Linked DNA regions of Homo sapiens: all the other regions are linked to region 2. Evidence: fine-mapped expression QTL. A gene starts in region 2. Each other region holds a variant in brackets. All regions are shown on one strand. Distances are from middle to middle. Region 1 overlaps PLXDC1 (plexin domain containing 1). Region 2 holds the start of PLXDC1 (plexin domain containing 1). Region 3 has its middle 29 kb from the start of LINC02079.

What was found. PIP is the estimated chance that this variant, and not a neighbour inherited with it, causes the effect.
Region 1: its variant is fine-mapped to the expression of PLXDC1 in whole blood (TwinsUK, PIP 0.95).
Region 3: its variant is fine-mapped to the expression of PLXDC1 in neural progenitor cells (Aygun 2021, PIP 0.90).

What each region holds. Positions count from the first base shown.
Region 1 is chr17:39,086,602-39,090,774 of GRCh38, reverse strand. It overlaps PLXDC1 (plexin domain containing 1), which reads left to right. Exons shown (of 14, transcript NM_020405.5): 8 at 3,073-3,168. It also overlaps the pseudogene RDM1P5. Among named protein-coding and RNA genes, the nearest start is that of LINC02079, 62 kb to the right of the region's middle. RefSeq lists an enhancer at 2,968-3,468. The variant TTTC/C (reference allele first, on the strand shown) is at 1,829.
Region 2 is chr17:39,149,923-39,154,095 of GRCh38, reverse strand. PLXDC1 (plexin domain containing 1) reads left to right here and starts at 2,459. Exons shown (of 14, transcript NM_020405.5): 1 at 2,459-2,734. The coding sequence starts at 2,659. TRC-GCA2-3 (tRNA-Cys (anticodon GCA) 2-3) reads left to right here and starts at 291; the gene lies at 291-362. RefSeq lists enhancers at 1-433, 806-955.
Region 3 is chr17:39,054,492-39,058,664 of GRCh38, reverse strand. It overlaps the pseudogene RDM1P5. Among named protein-coding and RNA genes, the nearest start is that of LINC02079, 29 kb to the right of the region's middle. RefSeq lists a silencer at 1,565-1,804. The variant G/T (reference allele first, on the strand shown) is at 1,601.

The sequences.
Region 1 (4,173 bases), 63 kb after region 2:
AGGCTGAAAATGCCCTAGAGTCTCAGCCATGAGAAGAACAGCAAAAAAGCAGTCGGGGCAGAGAGAAAAGGGGCTCACATGCTTCGAGGGCTCCTGGGGTCCTTGTGCGTTGAGTGTCTCCCTTAATTCTCAGGACAACACCATTTGCATGGCATCACCAGCCCCATGTGTGGATGCGGCTCACTGAGTCCCTTGTCCAAGGTCACACAGGCGGTAAGGGCAGAGCCTGTCTGCCCAGCTGCGGCAACCCTAAGCCTCCTCTCCTTGTGTGGTCACCCTCCGGGGGCCGAGCTTCTTTTCCTCCATGCTCTCATCAGTGCCCCCATCTGCTTTCCCCTTTCCACTCGGCCTGGAGCAGCATCTGGCCTGTGGGTAGCAGGTGCACCCTCCTAGTGGCATGGGAGTGGGGGGCACCAGCATTTCAGACAGGCCTCAGGGATGTAGATGCTGCTCAGCTCCAGGGAATCTTTATTGACACCAATGCCAGAGTAGTCTTCTTTTCACTGCATGGAATGACATTCCAAGGTCTTGAATGTTTCAGGGGCTGAAGTGTCCTGCAGCAGGGCATTGTGTTGGGAAGAGAGCATGCTTTGGTGCCAGACCCACGGGGGCGCAGTCCTGGGTTAAGTAGGAGGGACTAATTCCAACGTTAAGGATAAATAAATAATGAGATACAGGCCAGGCATGGTGGCTCACACCTGTAATCCCAGCATTTTGGGGGTCTCAGGCAGGCATATCACCTGAGGTCAGGAGTTTGGGACCAGCCTGGCCAATATGGTGAAACCCCCTCTCTACCAAAAATACAAAATATTAGCCAGGTGTGGTGGTGGGCACCTGTAATCCCAGCTACTCGGGAGGCTGAGGCAGGAGAATTGCTTGAACCTGGGAGGCAGAGGTTGCAGTGAGCCGAGATCATCCCACTGCACTCCAGCCTGGGTGACAGAGCGAGACTCAGTCTCAATAAGTAAATAAATAATGAGATACTATGTGAACCATGGACAAAGCTCCTCTAGGTTCCTTACATAGGAGGGGATGTGGGGGTGGGGCACCCAGCAGTGGCACGGGACGCCCACCCCTTTGTGGATGCCCCTACTCAGCTCTTCTGCCACCTTGGGAAATTTTCCTCCAAACCACCTTCAGCCGAGCGAGAAACGTATGTCCCCACCTACTTCTAGTGACGAAAACCCAATTCAAACTCGCTTAAATGGAAAAGGGGGGTGCACGGAGGATACTGAAGTAGCCCAAAGAACCAAAAGAAGAGCTGAATAGTGGGGCAGGTCCTGGAACCCCAGGGCCCAGAACATACCAGCACTTCCTGTTTCTCTCCATGAGGTGGCTTCATTCTCTGCCTTTCCCCATGAGCCCGGTACTGTGGCCATTCACAGGTTCTGAGCCTGCATCTTCTCAGCTTCATTACCAGACAGCAAAAGGCCTCTTGGTTACAGTTGAAAAGTCCCAGGGGAGGTCTCTGATTGGTCCAGCTCACAGCCGATACCCAGGCCTGGAACAATCACAGCGTGGCCAGAGAGGCAGGATCATGGAAGAAGATGGCAGCTGTGGTTCAGCCCACCTGTAGGAATGGGCCAGGCACAGTACCCCAAGGGGAATGCTGCTGTTTCCAGAAGACGAAAGGGTGTTGGGCGGACCAAACACTGAGTGGTTCTTTCCTCTTGTGGGGTAACTCATTCTCAAAGCTCAATTCCTGGCTGTCTGCTTCTTATTCTTTTTTCTTTCTTTTCTTTCTTTCCGTTCTTTCTTTTCTTTCTATTCTTTTTCTCTTTCTTTCTTTCTTTCTTTTTCTCTCTCTCTCTTTTTTTTTTTTTTTTTT[TTTC/C]AGTCTTGCTCTTGTCACCCAGGCTGGAGTGCAGTGGCACAATCTCAGCTGACTGCAACCTCTGCCTCCCAGGTTCAAGCGATTCTCCTGCCTCAGCCTCTCAAGTAGCTGGGATTACAGGCGTGTACCACCACACCCAGCTAATTTTTGTATTTTTAGTAGAGACAGGGTTTCTACTAAAAACCCTGTTGGCCAGGCTGGTCTCGAACTCCTGACCTCAAGTGATCCACCTGCCTCGGCCTCCCAAAGTGCTGGGATTACAGGCATGAGCCACCATGCCTGGCTGGGCTGCCTGCCTTTCAAAATTGAAGAAAACCAACCCCAAGTCATGGTTCCTGGGTGGGTATCGTGGCCTAGAGAGAAGTATCAGAGCACCTCAGATTGTCATTTTAAAAAAGAAGCCTTTCATGTACAGTTCCAGCTTTTTCCTCCCAAGGGTGTTGTGGTAGGTGTTTCTGTCTTTCCACTCCACAGACAAGAAACTGAGGTCCAAATGACTTGCCTGAGGTTATCCAGCAAGTCGTGAGCAGAACTAGAACGAACTTGGATCTCCTGACTCTGAGGTCCTGTGAGAAGTTTCTGCAGGGACCAAAGTAGGACTCGAGCCTGGCTGCAAGCCCTGAGCCTTGCTGGGGGATTTGTCCAGGAGGGGTGAGGTGGATGGTGGACAGCAACATGCAAAAGTCAGCCTGTCCATCTGCAGACATTCACAGAGCACTCAGCGAGGTTCAGGACCAGATGATCATGGTCTCACACATCCCCAGCCTCCAAATAGACCCTCATGTCCACAGTGTGGTGAGTGCAGTGGGAGGGGGGCACCTGGCCTGAGCCAGGCAGAGGAGGGAGCTGGCCAAGGAGGGCTGCTCAGGGGAAGTGGCCCTTGAGCTAGATCTGCAAGGATGAGCTAGACAGGAAGAAGGGGTGGAAGAACATCTTGGGTCAGGGGAATAGCAGTTGTGAAGGCGCAGAGGCAAGGAGAAGCAAGCATGGGATCCCATTTGTCCTGCCCCCAAGAGCAGCCAGGTCTCTGCGTTGAGTCACTTAGCCTCACACCACAACACTCTCCTCTCCAGGTCCGCACCTGTCCCTGTCTCCAGCAGCGCCAACATCATTGTCCCAGGCTGCTGGGTGCACTTACTGCCTTCAGTGCAGCAGGCTGACCTGTCAGACTGTCCGGGAAGAGGCCTCGATGCCCTCTGCCTGTGATATGCTCCTGACAACAGGCTCTGCCTCTGTTTCAGAATCTCGGCGAAGGAGCATCTTTGAATATCACCGCATAGAGCTGGACCCCAGCAAGGTCACCAGCATGTCGGCCGTGGAGTTCACCCCATTGCCGAGTGAGTAGGGGTCATTCCGCCATCCCAGAAAGAGCTCTGGAGTCAAGCAGACTGGCTTCATGTCCCAGGCCCATGACTGACTCCTGTTTTGTGCAGCCACCTAACTTTTCGGGGCCCTCCATCTCTCTTTTGTAACCCGAGCCTGATGCCACCTCCCTCCCAGAGATAGGGTAAGGGTGAGAACCACCTAGGTGGAGTTGAGCACATCGGCCGCAGCTCTGACATTGATGGGTCCATTCTGGGTTTGGGGTGGGGGTTAGGGCTTGATCTAGGACAGCTATTGTTATTCCCACATAATTGAAACCCGGGAAAGCTGTACCTCTGAGAACGCCTAGACTGAGCCCCCAGAAAAGGTGATCCAGGAACTAGACGGGCCTCAGTTTGTCACTGTATTCTCCTTAGAGGAGGTGATGCTGCGGTCCACAGGCAGGAGGCAATGGAGGGACTTAGCAGGTGGCCTCCATAAACCATGGGACCCTGGCCCTCTGCACCCCACTCACCCATGCTGAAGGCAGCCACCTGCTGTTGTGGAGCCCACAGGATCCGCGGTGGATGCTCTTCGGGATGGGGCTGGGACAGCTGAGACTGCGGGAAGGAGTACAGCATCTTCCTTCTTGTTGTTTTATGAAGGTCTTCATTTCCTCTCCCATCTTGTGGTGCCCCCAGCTTCCTGCTGAAGCCATGGCCTTCTCCCTGCCTCAGTGGCATTTCTTCTTTTTCTTCTTCTTTTTTTTTTTTTTTTTTTTTGAGACAGTCTCACTCTGTTGCCCAGGCTAGAGTGCAGTGGTGTGATCTCGGCTCACTGCAATCTCTATCTCCCAGGTTCACGTGATTCTCCTGCCTCAGCCTCCCAAGTAGCTGGGATTACAGGCACCCGCCACCATGCCCGGCTAATTTTTGTATTTTTAATAGAAATAGGGTTTCACTCTGTCGGCCAGGCTGGTTTTGAACTCCTGACCTCAAGTGATCCACCCACCTCGGCCTCCCAAAGTGCTGGGATTACAG
Region 2 (4,173 bases):
CAAGGGGTCTTCTGCAGGGCAGGAGAGTGGGACGCCCCCGAAGTGAAATATTTCGAGAGACTTCTCCTTCCACACCCCAGGAATATATTTTCTTATACTGCCAGTGGGGATCTTCAGCTCAGAGCTTCAGGGAACAACCCCTGCTTCCAAGTGAGTAATTCTTCTGGGAGTTGTATTTTTTCCATCTCTTGTAAACGTCTTACCCCACTTCCACTTCCCTTCGGGAACGCCACACAGCGCCTGCGCAGCAATACCACTAAACGACTACGTGCGGTCGGTTTGCCGGCAGAGGGGGTATAGCTCAGTGGTAGAGCATTTGACTGCAGATCAAGAGGTCCCCGGTTCAAATCCGGGTGCCCCCTCTTTGGCCTTTTCGAGATACTGTTTTTGTCCTGGGTGTCGATTTTTCCTAAGCTGTTTGCTTTTACTCCTACTGGCAGACGAGGAGCAGTGAGGGACTGAAAGGAACTGGGGATTCAACAGCAGTGGCTCTCAAAATGTGGTCCTGGGACCAGCAGCATTACCTGGGTACGCTCGGGCCTCATCCCAGACCTAATGAATTAGAAACTTGAGGGTGGAGTCCAGAAATCTGTGTTTTCATATACGCTCCCCATCGCTTGAGTCCAGGAGTTGGAAGCTGCAGTGAGCTATGATCGCAGCACTGCACTCCAGCCTAGGCAACGTGCGAGAACCTGTCTCAAAAAACAAACAAAATACACACACACACACACACACACACACACACACACACACACACACACCCTGCAGGTGATTACGATCTCAAGTTCTAGAGGCTTACGTTAAAATTTACACATTTGCTTCTACTATTTACAAGTTTATGTTTCAGCCTGAGCTCTTCTTGTAAGACAGACCACGAGGTACCCCAGATGGAGGAATGTGCAAAGACGCCGGGGCTGGAGCTGGAATCCGTCCCGAGACTTCTCACCTTGACCTCGAGGAAGGCAGGAGGTCGGAGACAGGGGGTGGGCAGGCTGGGGAAAGAGGAAACCCGCAGGACAAGAGGGTTGTGGCTCGTCACGTGGCCACTTGAGGGCAGCAAGTAGCTGCAGCTGGAGGTAGCTGCCTATCTGATTCTGTTTGAGAGTCCGCCAAGTTGGGATTTAAATTAGACATCAAGAAGAATTTACAGACCGGCCTTGCCTTGTTCCACGGTAAGGGGACATTGGGTTTAGGGCTGGAGGAGGTAGTCTCTGGGACTCTGGGCCCGGCGGAAGGAGGAACCGGCGTTCTAAGAGATTAGAGAGCCTTTAGTTGTTTCCTTTCTTAGGTGTTTTTTTTTCTTTTCTTTTCTTTTTTTTTTTTTTAACCTCAGTGCCACGGAATCCGTCTCTTCCAGCCCACAGTGTACCTTCTCCTGTCCCCGCCCATATCCCTCCTCCTGGAAAATTTCTCCAATGGCGCTCAGCGTTCGCACCCTTCCTCTCCGCGGTTTTCTAGTCCCTAGGCCCCAGCCCACTAGAAGCCAGGATGCCCCCTCACCCCGTCTCCCACTCTCCAGCGCCCCAGCTCCTTGCCGTCACAAGAACGAAGTAGGTCAGGGGAGGGAAGAGGCATCTTCGTGTCCTGACCTGATTCCTTGCCGTCTATTAAATATCCTACATTGCGGGTATTTTTATTCTGTCCTGGAAGAAAAAATAAAAAGATTATCTATCCCCAGAGCCTGTCAGAAGGTGGTGACAGGTGGGGTGAGCCATTTCCTCGTCTGGGGCTGGCTCTGAAGATTGATTGGGTCTGGCCCTGAGTAGGCCTGGAGGCCCCAGAGAGGCAGGAGGCCTGGGTTACCTACTCGTGGGGAGGGGTCCAGACTGTTGCAGAGTAAGGGGTAGCCAGGCCCCCTCCACCCTCACGTCTGCTAGGCTTGGGGGGCAAATCGGTGCTGGAAATGGGGGGTGGAGGGATAAGGTGGAGTCATGGAAGGGGGGTGGGATTCAGGCCCCTCTTGGGGAGAAAAGCTGGGGGTCTTTGCTGCAGGGGGAGATTTCTGGGGGTGGGGGCTGGAGGACAAAGCATCAGAGACGCACAGAATTCCGAAGAACAGCTCAGGAAGTCGCAGAGCTTGGAGGAGCTGGGGGCGGGGAACAGTCAGGGGCCCGTGACCCAGGGATGGGGCGCCTGTCCCTTCCAGGGGTCCAGTCCTCGGGCCTTCTCTCTGCAGCTTTCCCGGCGGAACGGAGGAGGGAAAGGGAGCCAGGAGCTCAGTGAGGAGCGCGGGGCGGCTGATGCTTCTAGGGGTTCTCTCAGCCCGAGGGGCTCCCGCCCTGTCCCCTACTCTGCACCCCTTGCCTTGGGAGCGGCTGCAGAGCTCTAGGGGAGCGCTCCGTTAGGGCTGAGGGCAGGCGCCGGGAGAGCCCCCAACGACGCCGCGCCCCCCGCCCCGCCCCCTGCCCCAGCTCCCCCCCACCCCCACCGACCCAGCGGCCCCCCCAGCTCCCCGCCTGCTCCCGGAGGCCGCAGCCTCCAGCTCCGCTCGCGCTCTCGCCGCTCCTGCCGGCTCGCCCGGCCCCGCGCTCCGCCGTCTCCTCGCCGCCCGCCCCTCCGCCAGCCCCGGGGACCGCGCGGCCGCAGCCTGAGCCAGGGCCCCCTCCCTCGTCAGGACCGGGGCAGCAAGCAGGCCGGGGGCAGGTCCGGGCACCCACCATGCGAGGCGAGCTCTGGCTCCTGGTGCTGGTGCTCAGGGAGGCTGCCCGGGCGCTGAGCCCCCAGCCCGGAGCAGGTAGGACTGGCGGGAGCCGGCCCGGGTGGGCCGGGGGCGGGGAGGGACGGGCAGTCAGGTGTGGGCATGGGCAGGTGTGGACGGCCTGGCGATGTCCGCGAGGGGGGCATTGTCCGCAGGAGGCCAGGAGAGCTGTGGGCTGTGGGCAGGTGGATAGGGACCCCACTTTCCCAAACACATAGGGTGTGTGAGTGACGGTGGAGACACCGATGCCCGGACCTCTCCTTCTCTCCTGGAAGGATACTGGAGGGACCTTAGGAGAGGGGGCTCTATGTGGCCATGGGCTCTGAAAGGGGACAGCGGGAGAGTCATCAGGACCCCTGATCACCCCAGGCAAGGCTGAATTCTGATGAGATGGGAGCCTGGGGAGGCCCCTGCCCCAGCCATGCCTTCTTTTCCTCTTCTCTGCCACACCCCCGACCCCAAAGCTGATCCAGGCTAGGGATAGGTGGGAGCAGCCAGGGGGATGGTGGGGACACAGCGTCTCTGCCTGGGAAGGCAGCAGCCATTCGGTCACCTTCCCTTGCCTATTTGGTGTCAGTAGAGAGGCAGTGGGCCCAGGAAGAAGCAACTTGCTGCTTCTGCACCCCCAGCCTCAAGAGTCCCCCTCCTCACACCTGCTCCCATTTGCCCTGGCAGCCTTTGGCTTTCAGCTACTCTGGCTCTAGATGGGGCACTGGGGTAGGGGGTGGAGGGAGGCGTCCCATTCTGCACACTCCTCTTCCCCCCTACCAGTTCTCCAAACTCATCTCTCCCACCTGGAAGTCCTTTCTGAGATCTACCTGGAATCCCTCATGGTATAATTTTCATAGTCTCTGTTCTCCCCTAAGCACCTAGACTTTCTCTGGGGTTGGGGAGATGGGTAATTTGCAGCCTGGCCCCTCAGCAGAGATGATTAAGAAGATAGATACCTGTGCATCATTGGCATGGGTGCCCCTCAGGTGGGGTGAGGGAGGCGCTGTTGAGGTGAGTGCTGTGGTTGACCTGCTGTGTCTCAGGAGTGTGCTGGCACCAGGCACAGTGTCAGTGGCAATGTTCTTGACTTTAATGGTCCCAGCATGTAGCTGAGACAGACCTGGGTCCCTATTGAGAAGAAGAGTATGTTGGGGGTGGGAGGGGAAGGAGGCTGACAGTGGGAAGTATGGGCAGAGGGCAGTGGAGCTGACGAACCGAGAAGCTGCTGGTGAGAACCACCAATTTTCAGGGAGACCACACAGAGGGTGGCCAGAGACGTGGCTTCTAGTCCCGCCATCTCACTTGCTGTGTGACTTTAGACAAGTTACTTTCTCTCTCTGGACCTATTTTTGCATTTATAAAGTGAGGCTGTTGGCAAAATCTTTGACTCTTGTGCGTGGAATAATGAAGGATCTTTTATAATTGCCTTTCCTTTTCATATTTGTTAGGGTCTTTATGGGTAACTGATACTTTAAAAAAATCAA
Region 3 (4,173 bases), 95 kb after region 2:
GTACTGCTGGTGGTGCTGCCGGCAGCTCACATTTACTGGGTGTTTCCTATGTTCCAAGCACATTTTAGGAGATTTACTTGTATCGTCATCTATGGGGTGGGTGCTGTTGCTACCTCTACCCTACACAGGAGGCCACTGAGGCACAGCGCAATAGGGAACTGTATGTTTTTGTATTTTTAGTACAGATAGAGTTTTGCCATATTGCCAAGGCTGCTCTCGAACTCCTGGTCTCAAGTGACCCGTCCGACTCAGTCTCCCAAACTGCTGGGATTACAGGCATGAGCCACCGTGCCCAGCCTGATCTTTAAATTTTTTCTGTAGAGATGGGGTCTCACTATGTTGCCCAAGCTGAGATTTCTTAAAAAGGGACAGCATAAAATGACATGGGGTTTAGCATCAGTAGGTTTGAGTTCAACCTTAAGCTTCCATAATTCTTGTCAGGAACCTTAAGCAAGTCAATTAACCACCCTGAGTTTGAGTTTCTTAATCTAAAAAAACCAGAGAACTGGAAGATTAGTGTGGCAATGCATCTGAAAATATTCTGTAAACCAGAGTGCTGGACAAATGCTAATCTATTATTGAATTCAGCACTTCATTTCAGCGGAGCTAGGAATTCCATATTTGGAGCCACCTTGACAGGAGATGTCTGAAAAAGCTGCTTCCGGTGGCATGCCTTTTGGGCTCCGTGGACAGCCATTGCTGAATAAAACTTAATGACGCCATAGAAACCAGAATGGGCCACTGCAGCATTTGGGAAGACCCGGACTGAATACAAAAGGTCAAACTGGGAAAATGCTGTGAACAGTGAAAGCTGTGGGGGTGGTCCTACGCCAAATAAGCGCATGAAATCTCACGCCCAGAAAACAAAACCGCCCATGCCTTCATATTCCCCAAACGCTTCTTCGAGAAGGATGCAATTCAAAACACTTCCCACTTAACCAACAAGTTTTCTTCTTAAGATCCTAAACTTGAAGAAGTCCTAGAAGGTAAAATGTGCTGACTGGAGAGGTACCTCTCCGGGACTCTAAAAATCTGTTTGGGGTAGCTGTCTGCTGGGGTCCCCTCTAGAATTAAGAGTCCTTCAGCGGGCCAGGCGCGGTGGCTCACGCCTGTAATCCCAGCACTTTGGGAAGCCACGGCGGGCGGATCACCTGAGGTCAGGAGTTCGAGACCAGCCTGGCCAACAAGGTGAAACCCCCGCCTCTACTAAAATACAAAATTAGCCAGGTGTGGTGGCGGGCACCTGTAATCCCAGCTACTCCGGAGGCCGAGTCAGGAGAATCGCTTGAACCCGGGAGGCGGATGCTGCAGTGGGCAGAGATCGCGCCACTGCACTACAGCCTGGGCAACAGAGCAACAGTGTGTCTCAAAAAAAAAAAAAAAAAAAAAAAAGAGTCCTTCAGCAGAGGCTGAGGCAGGTGAGGTGCTGAAGCAGGACTCTGGAACTCCCAGTTAGCAGGTGGGCGGCTTTCTCCATCCCTCCCTCCACCCTGGCCCAGGCTCACATGCAAAGCGTCGGCCGTGGGTCCAGAGCTCAGCTCCCACACTAGCAAGGTTTTGTCACTCTTGGTGGGAACCGCAAAAGGTAGCAGATCCGCCA[G/T]CCTCCCTTCGCTGAGCCTGCGCGGCTAAGGCTCGCGCAGTACTGCGCCTGCGCAAGGCACGCCCACGCTTTTTTTAAAAAAAGAGGCGCAGGCGAGGGGAGGGGCGGCGCCCGGATCGCTCCCTCGCCCCTCCTACCTGGGGCCGGCCTCTGAGCCTGTTCCTGTCCTCCAGCCACACCGCCACGATCCCTGAGTTTAGAACTTCCATTCAAGTGCATGTTTAGGGTACAGTCCCAAAATGGCCTGACAGCATGAAAGGGTAGGGACATATTTATAGCAGCCAGTTTCATCTTCACTCCTGCTGGAGATTAGGGTACTAAGTATTAGCACTACCTACTGAGCTTGTGGGAAATAACCATGAAAGATGCAATCTTTTGACTTAAGAGGTTTTTTTTTAAGGAGTTTAACATATTCAAATAAAAGTATAACTCACTAAGCTATTAACAGTCTAGCATGAAATCCTTAAAAAGAATTTCCTAGTTGTCCTACGTGATTCTGGGGAATTGTGTACGTGAACTTGTGGAGGTCAGATGATGTGGGAGATGGGAGGTTTGAATGAGAAGTAGAGATCAATTTTGAAAAAAAAAAAAAAATTCAAAGAATAGGTCCAAATTGGAGCTGATAGTGTCTGAGAGGGGTAGGTGTCATAATCAGCTACGTGGTAGAGCAGTGTAATCACCTGATGGGTTCATTGTACCCACTGCCCAGAAAAGCCGATTTACTGAGACAGCATTATTGAAATAGAGAAAGAGTTTAATAAGCACAGAACTAGCTAAATAGAAGACTGGAGTTTTATTATTACTCAAATCAGCCTCCCTGAAAATTTGGAAGCTAGGGTTTTTTAAGGATAGTTTGGCAGGCTGGGGGCTAGGGAGTGGGAAATGCTGATTGGTTGGGTCAAGGATGAAATCATAGGGTGTCAAAACTTGTGTTCTTGTGCTGAGTGAATTCCTGGTTGGGGGCCACAAGACCAGATGAGCCAGTTTGCCAATCTGAGTGGTCCCAGCTGGTCCATCAGAATACAGGGTCTGAAAAATACCTAGAACGCCAATCTTAGGTTTTTTTTTTTTTTTTTTTTGAGACGGAGTGTTGCTCTGTTGCCCAGGCTGGAGTGCAGTGGCGCAATCTTGGCTCACTGCAAGCTCCGCCTCCCGGGTTCAGCCATTCTCCTGCCTCAGCCTCCCCAGCAGCTGGGACTACAGGCACACACCACCACGCCCGGCTAATTTTTGTATTTTTAGTAGAGACGGGGTTTCTCTGTGTTAGCCAGGATGGTCTCGATCTCCTGAACTTGTGATCCACCCGCCTCGGCCTCCCAAAGTGCTGGGATTACAGGCATGAGCCACCGCGCCCGGCCCTTAGGTTTTACAATAGTAATATTGAAAGGAGTTAGTTAGCTTGCCTTAGGTAGATAACAAGGGAAGGGTCCCCAGAGAGCTCCCGGCCCACAGGTCAGTGCCTCATCCCCACACAACAGAAAAAGCAGCCTGGGAAAACATTCAAGCTGCAGGCACCCATAAGGGAACAGGCACAGGGTGTTGTGCCTGGAGACATGCCCACGGCTGCACAGATAGAAAAACCTCAGGTCCATTTGGATAAAAACTTCAACAAACTTCCATCTCACTCACATAAAGGAACAAGACCTGGCATAGAAATGTCTTTGTCCTTTGTATAGTCAGCGGCCTCCCAGGACAAAGTTTCTTCTCCTTTTGTGGGCGTGGCTACAGTGGGCTCCAGTGGGTTCCAGTGGACACTCTACTTTCCTTTTTGGACTATAAGTTTGGCCTCTGTGAATTATCACTTCAGCCCTTGATAGGTCCGGGGCCAAGCTTTCACTTCAGCTCCTGATAGGTCCTGGGCCAAGCTAAGCAGCATCTAGGAATCATCATTTCAGCTCGTGATTGGTCCTGGGCCAAGCTAAGCAGCATCTAGGAATCATCATTTCAGCTCCTGAGTGGTCCTGGGGCAACTAACCACATTCCTTCCCCTTCCCAGTCTTTAAAAACCCTGGACATCAGCCTCATAGGGGCACCCGTGTGGGACTCCCTTTCTGCTGGCAGAGAGCTTTCTTCTTTCGCTTATTAAACTTTCACTCTAACCTCACCTTTGTGTCTGCTCTCCTTAATTGTCTTGGAGGTAGGACAAAGAACTCTGGGGCGCATTATCTCAGACAAGGAGCGACTGTTAAATCTTGGTGCATTGCTGAGACTATAACAATGTTATGGGGTTTTTTTTGTTTTGTTTTGTTTTGTTTTTAGACAGTCTCCCTCTGTTGCCCAGGCAGTGGCGCAATCTTGGCTCACTGCAACCTCCGTCTCCTGGGTTCAAGCGATTCTCCCCCGTCAGCCTCCTAAGTAGGTGGGGTAACAGGTGCCTGCCACCACACCCGGCTAATTTTTGTATTTTTAGTAGAGACAGGGTTTCACCATGTTGGCAAGGCTGGTCTTGAACTCCTGACCTTAAGTGATCCACCCCCCTCCTCCCAAAGTGCTGGAATTACAGGCATGAGCCACTGTGCCCAGCCTACAACAATGTTATCTATAGGAGCAATTGGGTAGGTTTGAAATCTTGT